2 separate regions of the Homo sapiens genome follow, and region 2 is linked to region 1. The links come from fine-mapping of genetic effects on gene expression. Tissue or cell type: whole blood. Region 1 holds a variant in brackets; the other region holds the start of a gene. All regions are shown on one strand. Distances are between the middles of the regions.

Region 1 (8,102 bases):
AGTGGCTCACTCCTGTAATCCCAACACTTTGGGAGGCCAAGGCAGGTGTATCACCTGATGTCAGGAGTTCGAGACCAGCCTGGCCAACATGGTGAAACCCCCGTCTCTACTAAAAATACAAAAATTAGCCGGCATGGTGGTGGGCACCTGTAATCTCAGCTACTCGGGAGGCTGAGGCAGGAGGATCGCTTGAGCCCGCGAGGTGGAGGTTGCGGTGAGCCAAGATTGCGCCGCTGGACTCCAGTCTGGGCGACAGAGTGAGACCCTGTCTCAAAAGGAAAAGAAAAAAAAGACCTCTAAACAACCCACAAACTGGGAGAAAATTTTTGCAAATCACATGTTCCATAAGGGACTTGTATCTAGGATACATAAAATTCTTACAACTCAGTAATGAAAAGACAAATAGCCAAGTTTAGAAATGGGCAAGGGAGACAACACCAAATGCTGGTGAGGATGTGAAGCAACAGGAACTCTCCTTACTGGTAGGAACGCAAAATGGTACAGCAGCTTTGGAAGACAGTTTGGCTTTCTGACAAAACTAAACATACTCCCATCAGAAGATCCAGCCATTGCATTCCTTAGTGTTTACCCAAATGAGCTGAAAACTTATGTCCACACAGAAACCTGCACATGGATGTTTACAGCAGCTTTTGTTTTTGTTTTTGTTTTTGAGATGGAGTCTCGCTCTGTCACCCAGGGTGGAGTGCAGTGGCGCGATCTCGGCTCACTGGAAGCTCTGCCTCCTGGGTTCACGCCATTCTCCTGCCTCAGCCTCCAAGTAGCTGGGACTACAGGCGCCTGCCACGAAGCCCAGCTAATTTTTTGTATTTTAAGTAGAGACGGGGTTTCACCATGTTAGCCAGGATGGTCTCGATCTCCTGACCTCGTGATCTGCCCGCCTTGGCCTCCCAAAGTTCTGGGACTACAGGCGTGAGCCACCGCTCCCGGCCAGCAGCAGCTTTATTTGTAATTGCCAAAACTTGAAAGCAACCAAGATGTCCTTTAGCAGGTAAATGGATAAATAAACCTTGGTATATCCAGACAATGGACTATATTCAGCACTAGAAAGAAATGAGCTATTAAGCCATGAAAAGGCATGGAGAAACCTTAAATGCATATTAGTAAGTGAAAGAAGACAATCTGAAAGAGCTACATACTGTATGATTCCAACTATATTACATCCTGGAAAAGGCAAAACTATGGAGACAATAAAAAAGATGGCAGGGGCTGGGAGTGGGGAGAAATGCACAGAGGTGGTGCACAGAGAATATTTAGGGTAGTGAAATTACTCTGGATGTTATAATGGTGGATACATGTTATTACACATTTGTCAAACCCTACAGGATGTACAACACCAAGAATGAAACCTAATGTAAACTATGGGATATGGGTGATACTGGTGTGTCAATGTAGCTTCATTGCTTATAACAAATATATCCTCTGGTGCCTGATGTTGTTGGTGGGGGGAGGCTATGAGTGTGTGTGGGGTGGGGGAACCCTGTATTTTCTGTTCAGTTTTGCTGTGAACTCGAAACTGCTCTTAAAGATGAAATTTTTATTTTAATGGGTAAAGTATTTGAATAACCATTTCTCCAAAGAGGATATACGGGTGACCAATAAGTACATGAAAAGACATTCAACATCATGAGCCATTAGGGAAATAAAAATCAAAACCCTCGTGAGATACCATTTCTCACCCAGTAGAATGGCTAGAGTGAAAAAGGCAGACACAGCCAGTCACGGTGGCTCACACCTGTAATCCCAGCATTTTGAGAGGCCAAGGCCAGTAGATCACTTGGGTTCAGGAGTTTGAGACCAGCCTGGCCAACGTGGTAAAACCTCCTCTCTACTAAAAATAGGAAAATTAGCTGGGCATGGTAGTGCATGCCTGTAATCCCAGCTACTAGGGAGGCTGAGGCAGGAGAATTGCTTGACCCGGGAGGTGGAGGTTGCAGTGAGCCCAGATCATGCCATTTCACTCCAGCTTGGGTGACAGAGCAAGACTCCATCTCAAAAAAAAAAAAAAAAAGACAAAAGATAGTGTTGGCAAGGATATAGAGAAATTAGAACTTTCTATACTTTGCTGGTGGGAATGTAAAATGGTGTAGCCATTTGGGAAAACAGTCTGGCAGTTTCTTAAACAGTTAAATATGGCCAGGAGTGGTGGTACTCACTTGTAAGAGGCCGAGGCAGAAGCATTGCTTGAGCTTAGGAGTTTGAGACCAGACTAGGCAAAATAATGAGACCGTATTTAAAAAAAAAAAAAAAAGTTAAACGTGGACTTACTATATGATCCAGCAATTCCAATCCTAGGTATTTACCCTGAAGAAATTTTTTTCCACACAAAGACTTGTATGCAAATGTTCATAGCAGCATTATTCACCATAGCCAAAAACTAAAAACACCCAAATGGCTATCTGTTGATAAGTGGATAAACAGAAGGTGGTCTGTCACCCAGGCATGGTGGCTCATTCCTATAATGTCAGGATTGCTTGAGGCCAGGAGTTTGAGAACAGCTTGGGCAACATAGTGAGACTGCATCTGTTGAGGGAAGTCAGGAACCCCGAACGGAGGGACCGGCTGAAGCCGTGGCAGAAGAACATAAATTGTGAAGATTTCACGGACATTTGTTAGTTCCCCAAATTAATACTTTTATAATTTCTTACACCTGTCTTTACTGCAGTCTCTGAACATAAATTGTGAAGATTTCATGGACACTTATCACTTCCCCAATCAATAGCCTTGTGATTTCCTATTCCTGTCTTTAATCTCTTAATCCCGTCATCTTCGTAAGCTGAGGAGGATGTATGTCGCCTCAGGACCCTGTGATGATTGCATTAACTGCACAAATTGTTTGTAGAGCATGTGTGTTTGAATAATATGAAATCTGGGCACCTTGAAAAAAGAACAGGATAACAGCAACGTTCAGGGAACAAGAGAGATAACCTTAAACTCTTGACTGCCAGTGAGCCGGGCGGAACAGAGCCATATTTCTCTTCTTTCAAAAGCAAATGGGAGAAATATCGCTGAATTCTTTTTCTCAGCAAGGAACGCCCCTGAGAAAGAGAATGCGTCCCTGAGGGTAGGCCTCTGAAATGGCCACTTGGGGGGTGGCTGTATTTTACAGTCACAGCTGTAGGGATGAAATAAGCCCCAGTCTCCTGTAGCGCTCCCAGGCTTATTAGGATGAGGAAATTCCCACCTAATAAATTTTGGTCAGACCGGTTGTCTGCTCTCAAACCCTGTCTCCTGATAAGATGTTATCAGTGACAATGCATGCCCAAAACTTCATTAGCAATTTTAATTTCGCCCCGGTCCTGTGGTCCTGTGAACTCGCCCTGCCTTCATTTACCTTGTGATATCTTATTACCTTGTGAAGCATGTGATCTCTGTGACCCACACCCTATTCGTACACTCTCTTCCCTTTTGAAATCGATAATAAAAACTTGCTGGTTTTATGGCTCAGGGGGCATCACGGAACCTGCTGACATGTGACGTCTCCCCCGGACACCCAGCTTTAAAATTTATCTCTTTTGTACTCTGTCCCTTTATTTCTCAGACCGGCCGACACTTAGGGAAAATAGAAAAGAACCTACGTGAAATATCAGGGGTGAATTTTGCCCGATAGCATCTCTACAAAAATTTGTTTAAAATAGCCAAGCATGGTGGTACGTGTCTATAGTCCCAGCTACTCGAGGGGCTGAGGTAGGAGGATTGCTTGAAGCCAGGAGTTCGAGGCTACCATAAACTATGATCCTACCACTGTACTCCAGCCTGGGTGACAAAAAAACAAACCTAAACAAAACACAAAATATGGTGATACGGTTTGGATATTTGTCCCTTCCAAATCTCGTCAAAATGTCATCCCCAGTGTTGGAGTTGAAGC[C/G]TGGTGGAAGGTGAATGGATCATGGAGGCAGATCCCTCATGAACGGCTTAGCACCATCCCCTTGGTGATGAGTGAGTTCATCTGTAATCTGGTTGTTAAAGGTGTGTGGCATCTCCCGCTTTGCTCTCTTGTTCCTGCTGTCACCATGTGACATCCCTGCTCTCCCTTTTCCTTCTGCTGGGATTTGAAGCTTCCTGAGGCCCTCACCAGGAGCAGATGCTGGAGCCATGCTTGCACAGCCTGCAGAACTGAATCAATTAAACCTCTTTTTCCTCTCTCTCTTTTTTTATTTTTATTTTTTTTGATATGGAGTCTCACTCTGTCACCCAGGCTGGAGTGCGATGGCACGATCTCAGCTCACTGTAACCTCCGCCTCCCGGGTTCAAGCGATTCTCCTGCCTCAGCCTTCCAAGTAGCTGGGATTATAGGCGTACGCCACCATGCCCAGGAGGCAGAGGTTGCAGTGAGCCGAGATCACACCACTGCACTCCAGCCTGGGTGACAGAGCAAGACTCCGTCTCAGGGAAAAAAAAAAAAAACTACCAAATTGTTTTCCAGAATAACTGAATCATTTTACATTCTCATTGGCAATTCATGAGTGATCTAGTTTCTCCACATCCTCTTCTACATTTGGTGTAGCAACTGTTTACATTTAGCCATTTGGAATAAGTGTACAGGGATAGCCCATTGTAGTTTTAGTTTGCATTTCCTTAATGGCTAGTGATATTGAACATCCTTTCCCAAGTTTATTTCCAATGTGTATATTCTCTTTACTGAAGTGCTTTTTCATGTCTTTTGCACATTTTTATTTAGATTATTTATTTTTGAGTTTTGGGAGTTCTTTATATATTCTAGATACTAGTCCTTTATCAGATACGTAGTTTGCAAATATTTTCTCCCACTCTATGCCTTTTCATCCTCTGAACAGGGTCTTTCACAGAGTAAAAGTGCTTAATTTTGATGAAATCTATTTTATTATTTTTCCTGTTATGGATTGTGCTTTTAGTGTCAAGACTAAAAATGCCTTGTGTAGCTCTAGGTCCAGAAGATTTTCTCCTAAATGTTTGATGATGTACATTTAAGTCCATGGTTTGGTTTGGTTTTTGTTTTTTGGTTTTTGTTTTTCTTTGAGACAGTCTTATTCCCTCACCCAGGCTGGAGTGCAGTGGCATGATCTTGGCTTACTGCAACCTCTGCCTCCCAGGTTCAAGCGATTCTGGTGTCTCATCCTCCAAAGTAGCTGGAATTATAGATGCGCACCATCACGCCCAGCTAATTTTTGTATTTTTAGTAGAGACAGGGTTTCACCACGTTGGCCAGGCTGGTCTTGAACTCCTGACTTCAAGTGATCTACCTGCCATGCTGGAATTATAGGCATGAGCCACTGCACCTTGTTGTAATTTTTGTATATAATGTAAGATTTATTTCAAGGTTCATTTTCTTGCCTATGAATATCTGATTACTCCAGAACCATTTGTTGAAAAGCCATTTTTCCTCCATTGAATTGCATCAGCACCTTTGTAAAAAACCAACTGGGCACATATTAGTTGGTGACAAATTCTTTTAGTTTTCCTTCCTTTGAGAATTTTACAATTTCCCCCAGCATTCTTGAAGGATATTTTCATTGGATATGGGATTCTGAGTTGATAGTTTTTTTAACAATGGAAAAGTGTTGTGTCACTTCTTTCTGGTTTCTGTTGTCTCTGATGAGAAATAAGCTGTCATTCAAATTATTTTTTCTATATAAGTAACATATTGTTTTTCTCTGGCTGCTTTCAAAAAATTTTTTTGTTTTGTTTTCAGAAGTTTGACTATAATGTATCTTGGTGTGAACTTCTTTGGGTTTATCCCAATTGGAATTCTCTCAGCTTCTTGAATCTATTGTTTTATGCATTTTGCCAAGTAGGAAAGTTTTCTTTGAATATTTGTTCATTTGATTATTTATTTATTAATGTATTTTTTTGAGACAGGGTCTTGCTCTGTTATCCAGGCTGGAGTACAGTGGCAGAATCATGGCTCACTGCAACCTAGACCTTCCAGGCCGAAGCGTTCCTCCCACTTCAGTCCCCAGAGTAGCTGGGACCACAGGTGTGCACCACCACACTCAATTTTTTTGTTTTTGAGGCGGAGTCTCGCTCTTTCACCAGGCTGGAGTGCAGTGGCATGATCTTGGCTCACTGCAATGTCTGCCTCCCAGATTCCAGTGATTCTCGTGCCTCAACCTCCTGAGTAGCTGGGATTACAGGTGCCTGCCACCATGCCTGGCTAATTTTTGAATTTTTGGTAGAGACGGGGTTTTACCAAGTTGGCCAGGATGGTCTCAATCTCTTGACCTCATGATCCGCCTGCCTTGGCCTCCCAAAGTGCTGGGATTACAGGCGAGAGCCACCACGCCCGGCCCCCTCCTATGTTGTCCAGGCTGGCCCCAAACTCCTGGGCTCAAGCAATCCTTCTGCCTCTGTCTACCAAAATGCTGGGATTACAGGGATGAGCTATCATGCCCCACTCTGATCTTTTATTAACAGTCTCACAGGCCCTGAGGTTGTGTTTATTATTTGTTTCTTTTCTTTTCTTCTTTTTTTTTTTTTTTTTTTTTTTTTTTTTGGTTGAGATGGAGTCTCGCTCTGTCGCCCAGGCTGGAGTACAGTGGCGCGATCTTGGCTCTGCCTCCCGGGTTCACACCATTCTCCCGCCTCAGCCTCCCGAGTAGCTGGGACTACAGGTGCCCACCACCATGCTCGGCTAATTTCGTTTTTGTATTTTTAGCAGAGACGGGGTTTCACCGTGTTAGCCAGGGATGGTCTCGATCTCCTGACCTCATGATCCACCCACCTCAGCCTCCCAAAGTGCTGGGGTTACAGGCATGAGCCACTGTACCGGCCTCTTTTATTTTCTCTTTTCTTTCTTGTTTACTTTTTCCAGTCCATTTTCTCTCTGTTGTTCAGATTGAGTAATTTCTGTTGTCCTGTCTTCCAGTTAACTGCTTGTGTTGTCCTCTTTTCCACTTTTGAGCCCATTCACTGAGCTTTTTATTTCGTTGTTGTATTTTCTATTTCTAAAATTTCTATCTGATTCTTCCTTATATCTCCTATTTCTATGCTGAGACTCTTTTTTATTTTTTCAACATGTTCATAACTGTATTTTTTTTTTTTGAGATGGAGTCTCACTCTGTCGCCCAGGCTGAAGTGCAGTGGCACGATCTCGGTGCACTGCAACCTCTGCCTCCCAGGTTCAAAAGATTCTCCTGCCTCAGGCTCCCGGGTAGCTGGAATTACAGGCATGCACCACCACACCCAGCTAATTTTTGTACTTTTTGTAGAGACAGGGTTTAACCACGTTGCCCAGGCTTGTCTCGAACTCCTGGACTCAAGCAACCAACCTGACTTGGCCTCTCAAAGTGCTGGGATTACAGGCATGAGCCACTTTGCCCGGCCTGAGTTGCATTCCTCTATGAATTTTAGAAAAAGCAATCAATTTCAACAAGAAAATTGCTGGAATTTTTATTGATTACACTGAATCTATAGATTAATTTGAGAGGAACTGACATCTTTAAAATGTTGAGTCTTCTGATTCATGACCATGGTATGGCTCTTCATTGATTTACATCGTCTTTAATTTCTCTCAGCAATGTTTTGTAGTTATTAGTGTATGATTTTGCATGTAGCTTTTGTTATATTTTTTGTCTATGTATTTTATATTTTGGATGCTGTTATAACTGGTTTTTAAGAAGTTTTAATTCCCAATTGTTTATTCCTATTATATAGCAATATAATTGATTTTAATACAGTGATCTTGCATCCTTCAGCCTTGTTAAGCTGTAGTTGCTTTTTGGATGATCCCACAGGATTTTACACACAATCATGTTATTTGAAAATACAGTTTTATTTCTTTCTTTCCAATCTGATTGCCTTTTACTTCTCTTTTTTGACTTGTTCACTGGCTAGAGCTTCTAGCACAATATCATACAGAAGTGATGAGGGTAGACCGGGTGCGGTGGCTCATGCATGTAATCCCAGCACTTTGGGAGGCCGAGGCAGGCGGATCACCTGAGGTCAGGAGTTCGAGACCAGCCTGGCCAACATGGTGAAACCCCATCTCTACTAAAAATACAAAATTTAGCTTGGCGTGATGGTGCACACCTATAATTCCAGCTACTTGGGAGGCTGAGGCAGGAGAATCGCTTGAACCTGAGAGGCAGAGGTTGCAGTGAGCTGAG
Region 2 (8,086 bases), 480 kb before region 1:
TACTTTGGGAGGGGGGTTTGTTCAGCATTTTGGGAAGCTAAGGTGGGTGGATCGCCTGAGATCAGGAGTTTGAGACCAGCCTGACCAACATGGTGGAACCCAGTCTCTATTAAAAATAGAAAAATTAGCTGGACATGGTGGCACATGTCTGTAATCCCAGCTCCTTGGGAGGCTGAGGCAGGAGAACTGCCTGAACCCAGGAGGCGGAGGTTGCAGTGAGCCGAGATCGTGTCATTACACTCCAGCCTGGGCAACAAGAGTGAAACTCTGCCTCAAAAAAAGAAAAATTCCTGGAGGACAGAGTTCACGTCATATCTTTTATTTCATTACTATTTGTACTACAAAATGAAGTAAAGAATTGAGTATAGTGTAAAATCTCTAATATTCATTAGAATTCATTCTGCCAAGCAATTTATATATTCTATGTCTCCAAATCTTTAAGTCTGAAAACAGTTTTGAAATGGGCTTGTAAAGAAAAATAAACGTGATGCATGTACACGAAACTTCTGATCAGAAAATAATAAACAAATATGAAGTACTTCTTACCACAATTAAAACACACACACACACACACACACACACACACACACACACACACTTCTGCATGTACTGTGGCACAAAAAGAGGTCAAGAAACTTAAAGAGCAGCCAAAATTATTAAGAGGAGGAACTGAAGGACACTTATAATAGCTAATTATTTTAGGCAATTGGTGACTATGAAAAAAGGTGCAATGAGGCTATCTGCTCAATTAGAATGCTGAAGATAATTTTGGGACCATTTTTCATAGTGAATGAAAAGCTATAGAACAGTAATGCCTTCACTTGAGGCAATTCCAGGAGGCTGAAAACAGGACAGGCTAAAACTACGGAATTTACATTGCTTCAGGAAAGGGGAATTACCTTGGGCTTTATCTAGTCTAATCCTGAACTGCGACAGAGCTAGATGAGGTCTCCCATTGGAGAACTGACATAACTGAAGCCTGAGAGGGTACTGCAGATGAGATCACATGGATTTAATTTGGGAAAATGGAGACTAAGAGGCATGATCATAAATCTAGATTGTAAGTGGCACATACACATTGAACCCAGCTTTTTTTCTCATCCAAACTTGAAACATTTGGCAAAGGATGCCTTTACAAACTTCAGGAAGGCATCTACTTTACTTCAATTTTAAAGGAACGTATTACACAGAGGTGGTATCTCAAAATGACAGAGAACGCGAGCTCTGGAAGTCAGACTGCCTGTGTTCATAACCCAGCTCTACCACCTAGTAGCTCTGGGACCTGGGGCAAATTCCTTAACACTCTACTTCTCAGGTTCTTCAATCAAGAAAATGGAGGCAATAACAGGACTTATCTCACAAAGTTGTGGTGAGGATTATAATGCACGCAAAGTACTCAGAAAAAAAGGGTCTGACACATGGTAAGCTCTCAATAAATAGTGGCTATTAATATACTTCTAGAATTCATCATAAAAATCAGGAAACAAATTGATTTTTTAAAGGTTCAAATGTATTTAGGAATGGGAAATCAATATATGGCTACTTATAGCACTGGGACATACCCAACTTCAAGATTTGTGTTGTCTGAATGGGATGAATCAGTAAGACCATGCCTATTTTCCTTAAGTGTTCAACTCTAGAAAGTAATGACTACTAGCTTTGCTAATTCTTTCTTCATTAATTTTGCAAAAGGTATAAAAGCAATATGGAAAAAAGAGGTAGAGAAGACAGAAGTAGATTAGCACACAAGGTGATTTCCTCAGATCAGAATCTGATGTGCCCAATGAATGGGTGATGTTCCCATGTTTGGCTGAGGCATTCCAGGACTTTACATCTATATAAAAGGGCGGGGAGTGGGAAGGGGGCAGGTCTATTACTCCATCTTCAGTTACAGCACTTTCCCCTTCACCCACTACACTCCACAAAAGCCTTCTTTCAGTTCCAGTATCAGGCCAGACTCTTTCCTGTCTCAGGGCTTTGGCAGGTTGATCTTTCTCCTACCTGGAACACTGTTACTCCCTTACTACCCTCCTGTGGCTACTTCTTCCTCATCCTAAATTCCCACTTTCAAAGTCACTACCCTTGATACCCTTATTTAAAATAGGTCTCTTCACTGGGTGCAGTGGCTCATGCCTGTAATCCTAGCACTTTGGGAGGCTGAGGCGGGCGGATCACTTGAGGTCAGGAGTTCAAGACCAGCCTGGCAAACATGGTGAAACCCTGTCTCTACTAAAAATATAAAAATCAGCCAGGTGTGGTGGCATGCGCCTGTAATCCCAGCTACTCTGGAGGCTGAGGCAGGAGAATCACTTGAACCTGGGAGGCAGAGGTTGCAGTGAGCTGAGATCACCCCACTGCACTCCAGCCTGGGCAACAGAGCAAGACTCGTCTAAAAAAAAAAAAAAGGTCTCTCTTGTTATTTTCTATCACAGCACCCAGTGTGCTTCCTGTGCAGAAGGCACTTATGCAATTTGTAACTAATTATTTATGTATTTATTTTTAATGTCTCCCCCATTAGATAGCTCCATGATGGCAAAGAACATCTTTGTTCATTATATCAACCTCATTTACCTTAACACGTTGACTAGCATAGAGCAGACGCTCAATAAACATCTGCTGAATGAATGAAATAATGACTCCTAAGGCTCCTTTCAGCTGCCCAATAATTATTAGGTAATAGGATAAAAAATACCCAGTGTAAAGGGGGAGGTTTTACGTGGGGTATAGGAAATATCTGATTCCTCACTATGATAAAAAAACAAACAACTAAATGGCTCCATTCCAAGAAGTTTAGTTAAAACTTGACTGATGTGGGCTGGGCATGGTGGCTGACGCCTGTAATCCCAGCACGTTGGGAGGCCAAGGCAGGCGGATCACAAGGTGAGGAGATCGAGACCATCCTGGCTAACACAGTGAAACCCCGTCTATACTAAAAATACAAAAAATTAGCCGGCTGTGGTGGCGGGCGCCTGTAGTCCCAGCTACTCGGGAGGCTGAGGCAGGAGAATGGCGTGAACCCGGGAGGCGGAGCTTGCAGTGAGCCTAGATCGTGCCACTGCACTCCAGCATGGGTGACAGAGCGAGACTCCGTCTCAAAAAAAAAAACCAACAAAAAAAAAACACTTGACTGATGTAATCTATTAATGAGTAACAGCTTCCTCAGTGACTTTGTAAGTTTTGCTTTCAGATGTGCCTCAATCATTTTAACAACTGGTTATCTAGGCCCAAATCCCTGTCAAATAATGGGTTGGCTACATAAGAATTAGCTGATAAGCTCATTAAAAATACAGATTTTTGGACCAAAACTCCAGGAGATTCTGATTTAGTATTTGTGAAGCCTTAGAATCCATATAATTAAAATTTTCTCATTTTAAATAGATATTATGTGTATGTAATACACAGGTCCAGAGGTAAGAAACAGTTTACAGCAAAGTTTCTCTTCTACCCCTGTTCCCCTGGCATCAAGTTCCCCTTTCCATAAGCTACTGCTGTTATCAATTTCTTGTGTATCCTTACGGATAATTATTTGCCTAAGCAAGCACATATATATCCTTTGATTTGCATATTTAAAGAGCTATTCTAACCTTGTTTTTTCTAATCTCATTTACAATATATGTTGGAAATGAGGGTATCTGCATTTTTAACAAGCACCCTAGATGATTTTGATGTGAAGCCAAATATAGAAACAACTCATGGACCCACGGTTGTGAGATTAAGTTCAATTCACTACGACATATTAGAAACTCAAGGACATTGAAGGATGCCCTCAAAAGTAGCCTCCCTTACTTGATCTCTGCCCCCTCGTCTCACAGAGATGAACTAAATCATTCGCCAGTGTCTCCACAGAAGCCAGGAAAAACTAGCCATTCAAATGGATGCTGTCAAAGCTTCAATTTTCAATAATTGGAATTCTTTCCTGCTCATTGTTACCCGAAATTACAAACCTGACAATTCCTGTGTTACACAAGACATTCCTGTATTTAAGTTGAAATAAGGTGTGATCGTCACTGAATGAGGGCTGGTTTTTCTCCTGCCAGTTAAGTAGTTTAATGGAGCACAACCGAAATACTTTCTTTACTAATCCTTATTCACACAGCCTCATCCAAACTTCCCCCAAAACTGCTTTCTTGCCATTTGAGCAAAAGCAATTAACTTAGAAACTGTGGGGAGAAGACTGCTTGGTGAATTCTGGAGTTCGGGGCTCCTCTTATCCTGACTTGACCTACCTGGGGGCGATGGCTGGGTCCCTAGGCAGCTCTATCTCCCCCATCCCACCTATCCCTGGGACTGCAAAGGGAGCTTCCTTTTGGCACTGAGACAAGGTTCTCCGAGAGCCACCCGACCTCCGCAGTGTCTCTGTCACCACGAGGGGCACCGCGCGGCAGGCATCCTCACCTTTCCTACACCGCGCCAAGGAGGCAGGAGTGCACTGGGCTACCCGAGCGAGGCAGAGAACCCGCCGGGATCCAGCGCTGGTTTACCCCACACCCTCGTCGAAGGGGCTCTCGAGGGCTCGGTTTCTGCCCAAGCCCCCTGCAAGGTGGAGGCATGACTCCTCCATCCCTTCCCCTTGAATTCAAACGTGAGGATGGTATCTGCGAGGCTAAAGCGGGGCTCAGATGGCCCAAACTTCAGACCACTCTCTTCTCCACTCGGCTTTTCTTCCATCCTCCTGGCCATGTGTCTCCCCGTGAGTCGTGGCCCAAGTCTCCCCACCTCGGCCAGCCGCCACCCTCTGGCCTGGCTCCCGCCCTCCTGCCCACCTGGCCCCTTCCCCCTCACCCAGCATGATGGGGCTGAGCCGCCGGGCCAGGCCTTTGGACAGGTCGTACACGTAGAGCTTCACCGGATAGAGATTCGGCGGCTCCATTGGGACCCGTGGCGACGGCGGCCACGACGGCCCTCGGGCACCCGGCAGCGGCTTGGACCTTCCCGTACCCGACGGGAGTGCGAAGCGGAGGGAGAGGGGGGGACCGAGCCCGGGCCCGGGCTGAGGGGTGGGGGAGAGGCCGCCCTGCGCTGCTCGCGCCCCCACACCCGCTACCGGCAACGACTACTGTGAGGTGACAGAGAGGGGACAGGGAGGGCCCACACGGAAGAGGGGGCGGGGGCAGGGATGCACTTTTGCGCATGTGCTTACAGTCCTGACGTAGGAAGGGGCGGGGCTTTGCCGAAGGGGGCGGGGCTCTCGCTGATGGGTTGGCTTTCGTCAGGGACATAGGTAGAAGCTGGTTGGGGAGTGTGCGTGCCAGCCTGACGCGATATAGTGCGCACATGCGTGATGACGTAGAGGGCGTTGATTGGGACCGAGTACAGGGCCCGCGCATGCGTGGATTGTCGTCTTCTGTCCAAGTTGGTCGCTTCCCTGCGCCAAAGGTAAGCGGGCCGTTATCCATTTGTGTTGTTCGCCAGCTAGGCCTGGCCTCGTCCCGCTTCGCTCGGTCGGTCTCGCGCGCCCCCATAGCCTTGCTAGAGGGTTAGCGTTAGCCTTAAGTGTGCGAATCCGAGGAGCAGCGACAGACTCGAGACCACGCTCCTTCCTCGGGAAGGAGGCGGCACCTCGCGTTTGAGGCCCGCCTGCGTTTGAGGCCCGCCTGCGCTTGCGGCCCGCCTGCGCTTGAGGCCTGTCTGCGTTTGAGATCTCATTGGGCGTGATTGAGGAATTTGGGGAGGTTTTTGGGCGGTATTGAGGACGAGGGGGTCCGTTAGTCAGCATAGAATCCTGGAGCGGGAATCCCTCACCGTCTAAATGGCGTCGGGGGCGGGACCTCCGGGATCTGGCTTCCGCGGGCCGCCGCCGGCCCTGAAACGTGAGGGATAGCTGAGATGAGGCAGCTACTGGGATGGCCCCCATGCGCATTTACATGCAGTCCGACTGCCGAGCTTTCGAGGCAGCAGGATTTACCGTCCACATTCCTCACTACTAACCAAGCTTTTAGAACAGATCTCACAAGAACCTAGAGGTCGGTATTTTTTCGATTTAAATTTGCCTGTTACTGACGTTAACGTCTTTCGCCTAGTGAGCAGTAGCCAACATGTCAGGGTGGGAGTCATATTACAAAACCGAGGGCGATGAAGAAGCAGAGGAAGAACAAGAAGAGAACCTTGAAGCAAGTGGTAAGTGACTTCAGCATGTAGTGCCATTCGGTGTGTGGAAGAAAGACCTTCCCTGCCTATCTCTGCTGGATGGACTTTGCTGTTTGATGGCCTGCCCTTCTCCTCCCAGATAATTCTGAAATTCTTTTCTTCCTTTGAACTTCGCAGAGCTACCCTAGGCTCTTATATGCAGATCTTACTCTAGTGTGCCCTAAGTTTTTTTTGGACACTGGTAGTTTGACATCTTTTGGTCCCTGATAAATGGCCATGACCATAGGTATTTTTTGTCATCTTAAGTGGTTCAGGTGAGACCCTTCTCATCCAGGAAAGTAGTGTTACCATTCCAGGACCTCAGTGTAAAAATGCCCCCACCCTGCAATAACTACACCAACCAAAGAATAAACGCAAGCAACACAGTTACAGGAAAGTGATTGATTCCCTCACTATAGCCTCCACGTTTGGGAGTGTATGTGCAGGCAACACAGTAACACATAAAACAAAGGAAGAGAAATAGGGGTACATGTAATCTTCATACTGGTTAATTTAACTCCTGAGCAGAAAAATTTTGAATATTTTTATTAAAAATGAGAAACGGCCAGGCGCGGTGTCTCAAGCCTGTAATCCCAGCACTTTGGGAGGCCGAGGCGGGCGGATCACGATGTCAGGAGATCAAGACCATCCTGGTTAACACGGTGAAACCCCGTCTGTACTAAAAAAAAAATACAAAAAATTAGCCGGGCGTGGTGGCGGTCGCCTGTAGTCCCAGCTGCTCGGGAGGCTGAGGCAGGAGAATGGTGCGAACCTGGGAGGTGGAGCTTGCAGTGAGCCGAGATGGCGCCACTGCATTCCAGCCTGGGTGACAGAATGAGACTCTCTCAGGAAAAAAAAAAAAGTGAGAAACATAGGAAATACAAAAAAGAAAAAAATTTGCTATAATCTACCACTCTAACACAACCACTACCAGCATTTTGACATTTTTGTATTTTTCTTTCAAGTATCTTTCAATATTTATTTCCTAATGAAATATATATATTTTTTAATTTTTTAATAGAGACAGGCTGGAGTGCAGTGGTGAGATCATCGTAGCTCACTGTAACCTCAAACTCCCGGGCTCAAGTGATCCTCCTGCTTCAGCTACCTCAGTAGCTGGGACTACAAGTGCCGCCAACTCCCAATAATTTCTTAATTTTTTGTAGAGACAGGATCTTGCTATGTTGATCAGGCTGGTCTCAAACTCTTGGCCTCAAGCGATACCCCCAAGCCTTGGCCTCCCAAAGTTCTAGGTTTATAGTCATGAGCCTCCATGCCCAGACTGTATCTGATTTCTTTTTCTTTTTTTTTGGAGACAGTCTTGCTCTGTCGCCCAGGCTGGAGTGCAGTGGCGCGATCTTGGCTCACTGCAAGCTCCGCCTCCCGGGTTCATGCCATTCTCCTGCCTCAGCCTCCCGAGTAGCTGGGACCATAGGCGCCCACCACCACGCCCGGCCAGTTTTTTGTATTTTTAGTAGAGACGGGGTTTCACTGTGTTAGCCAGGATGGTCTTGATCTCCTGACCTTGTGATCCGCCCTACTCAGCATCCCAAAGTGCTGGGATTACAAGTGTGAGCCACTGCGCCTGGCCTATCTGATTTCTTGTATTGTAACGATAGTGCATATACATTTATTTATTTATTGAGACAGAGTCTTGCTCTGTCGCCCAGGCTGGAGTGCACTGACTCAATCTCGGTTCACTGCAACCTCCGCCACCCCAGTTCAGGCTATTCTCCCATCTCAGCCTCCCAAGCAGCTGGGATGACAGGCGTGTGCGCCACCACACTCGGCTAATTTTTGTATTTTTAGTAGAGGCAGTGTTTCACCATGTTGGCCAGGCTGGTCTTGAACTCCTGGCCTTAGGTGATTCACCCACCTCGGCCTCCCAAAGTGCTGGAATTACAGGTGTGAGCCACTGTGCGTGGCCTATAGCTCATTTTAAATATACCATAATTTGGCC

Evidence for each region. PIP is the estimated chance that this variant, and not a neighbour inherited with it, causes the effect.
Region 2: it holds the start of DESI1, and the variant in region 1 is fine-mapped to the expression of DESI1 in whole blood (TOPMed, PIP above 0.99). The same link has a PIP of 0.9 or more in cerebellar hemisphere.

The regions. Positions count from the first base shown.
Region 1 is chr22:42,092,625-42,100,726 of GRCh38, forward strand. The region is part of intron 3 of NDUFA6-DT (NDUFA6 divergent transcript); the gene reads left to right. Among named protein-coding and RNA genes, the nearest start is that of NDUFA6-DT, 5.7 kb to the left of the region's middle. The variant C/G (reference allele first, on the strand shown) is at 3,887.
Region 2 is chr22:41,615,970-41,624,055 of GRCh38, forward strand. DESI1 (desumoylating isopeptidase 1) reads right to left here and starts at 5,074. Exons shown (of 6, transcript NM_015704.3): 1 at 4,783-5,074. The coding sequence starts at 4,870. It overlaps XRCC6 (X-ray repair cross complementing 6), which reads left to right and starts at 5,326. Exons shown (of 13, transcript NM_001469.5): 1 at 5,326-5,376; 2 at 6,021-6,117. The coding sequence starts at 6,036. RefSeq lists enhancers at 3,080-3,149, 3,160-3,219, 4,492-5,093 and a silencer at 4,825-5,094.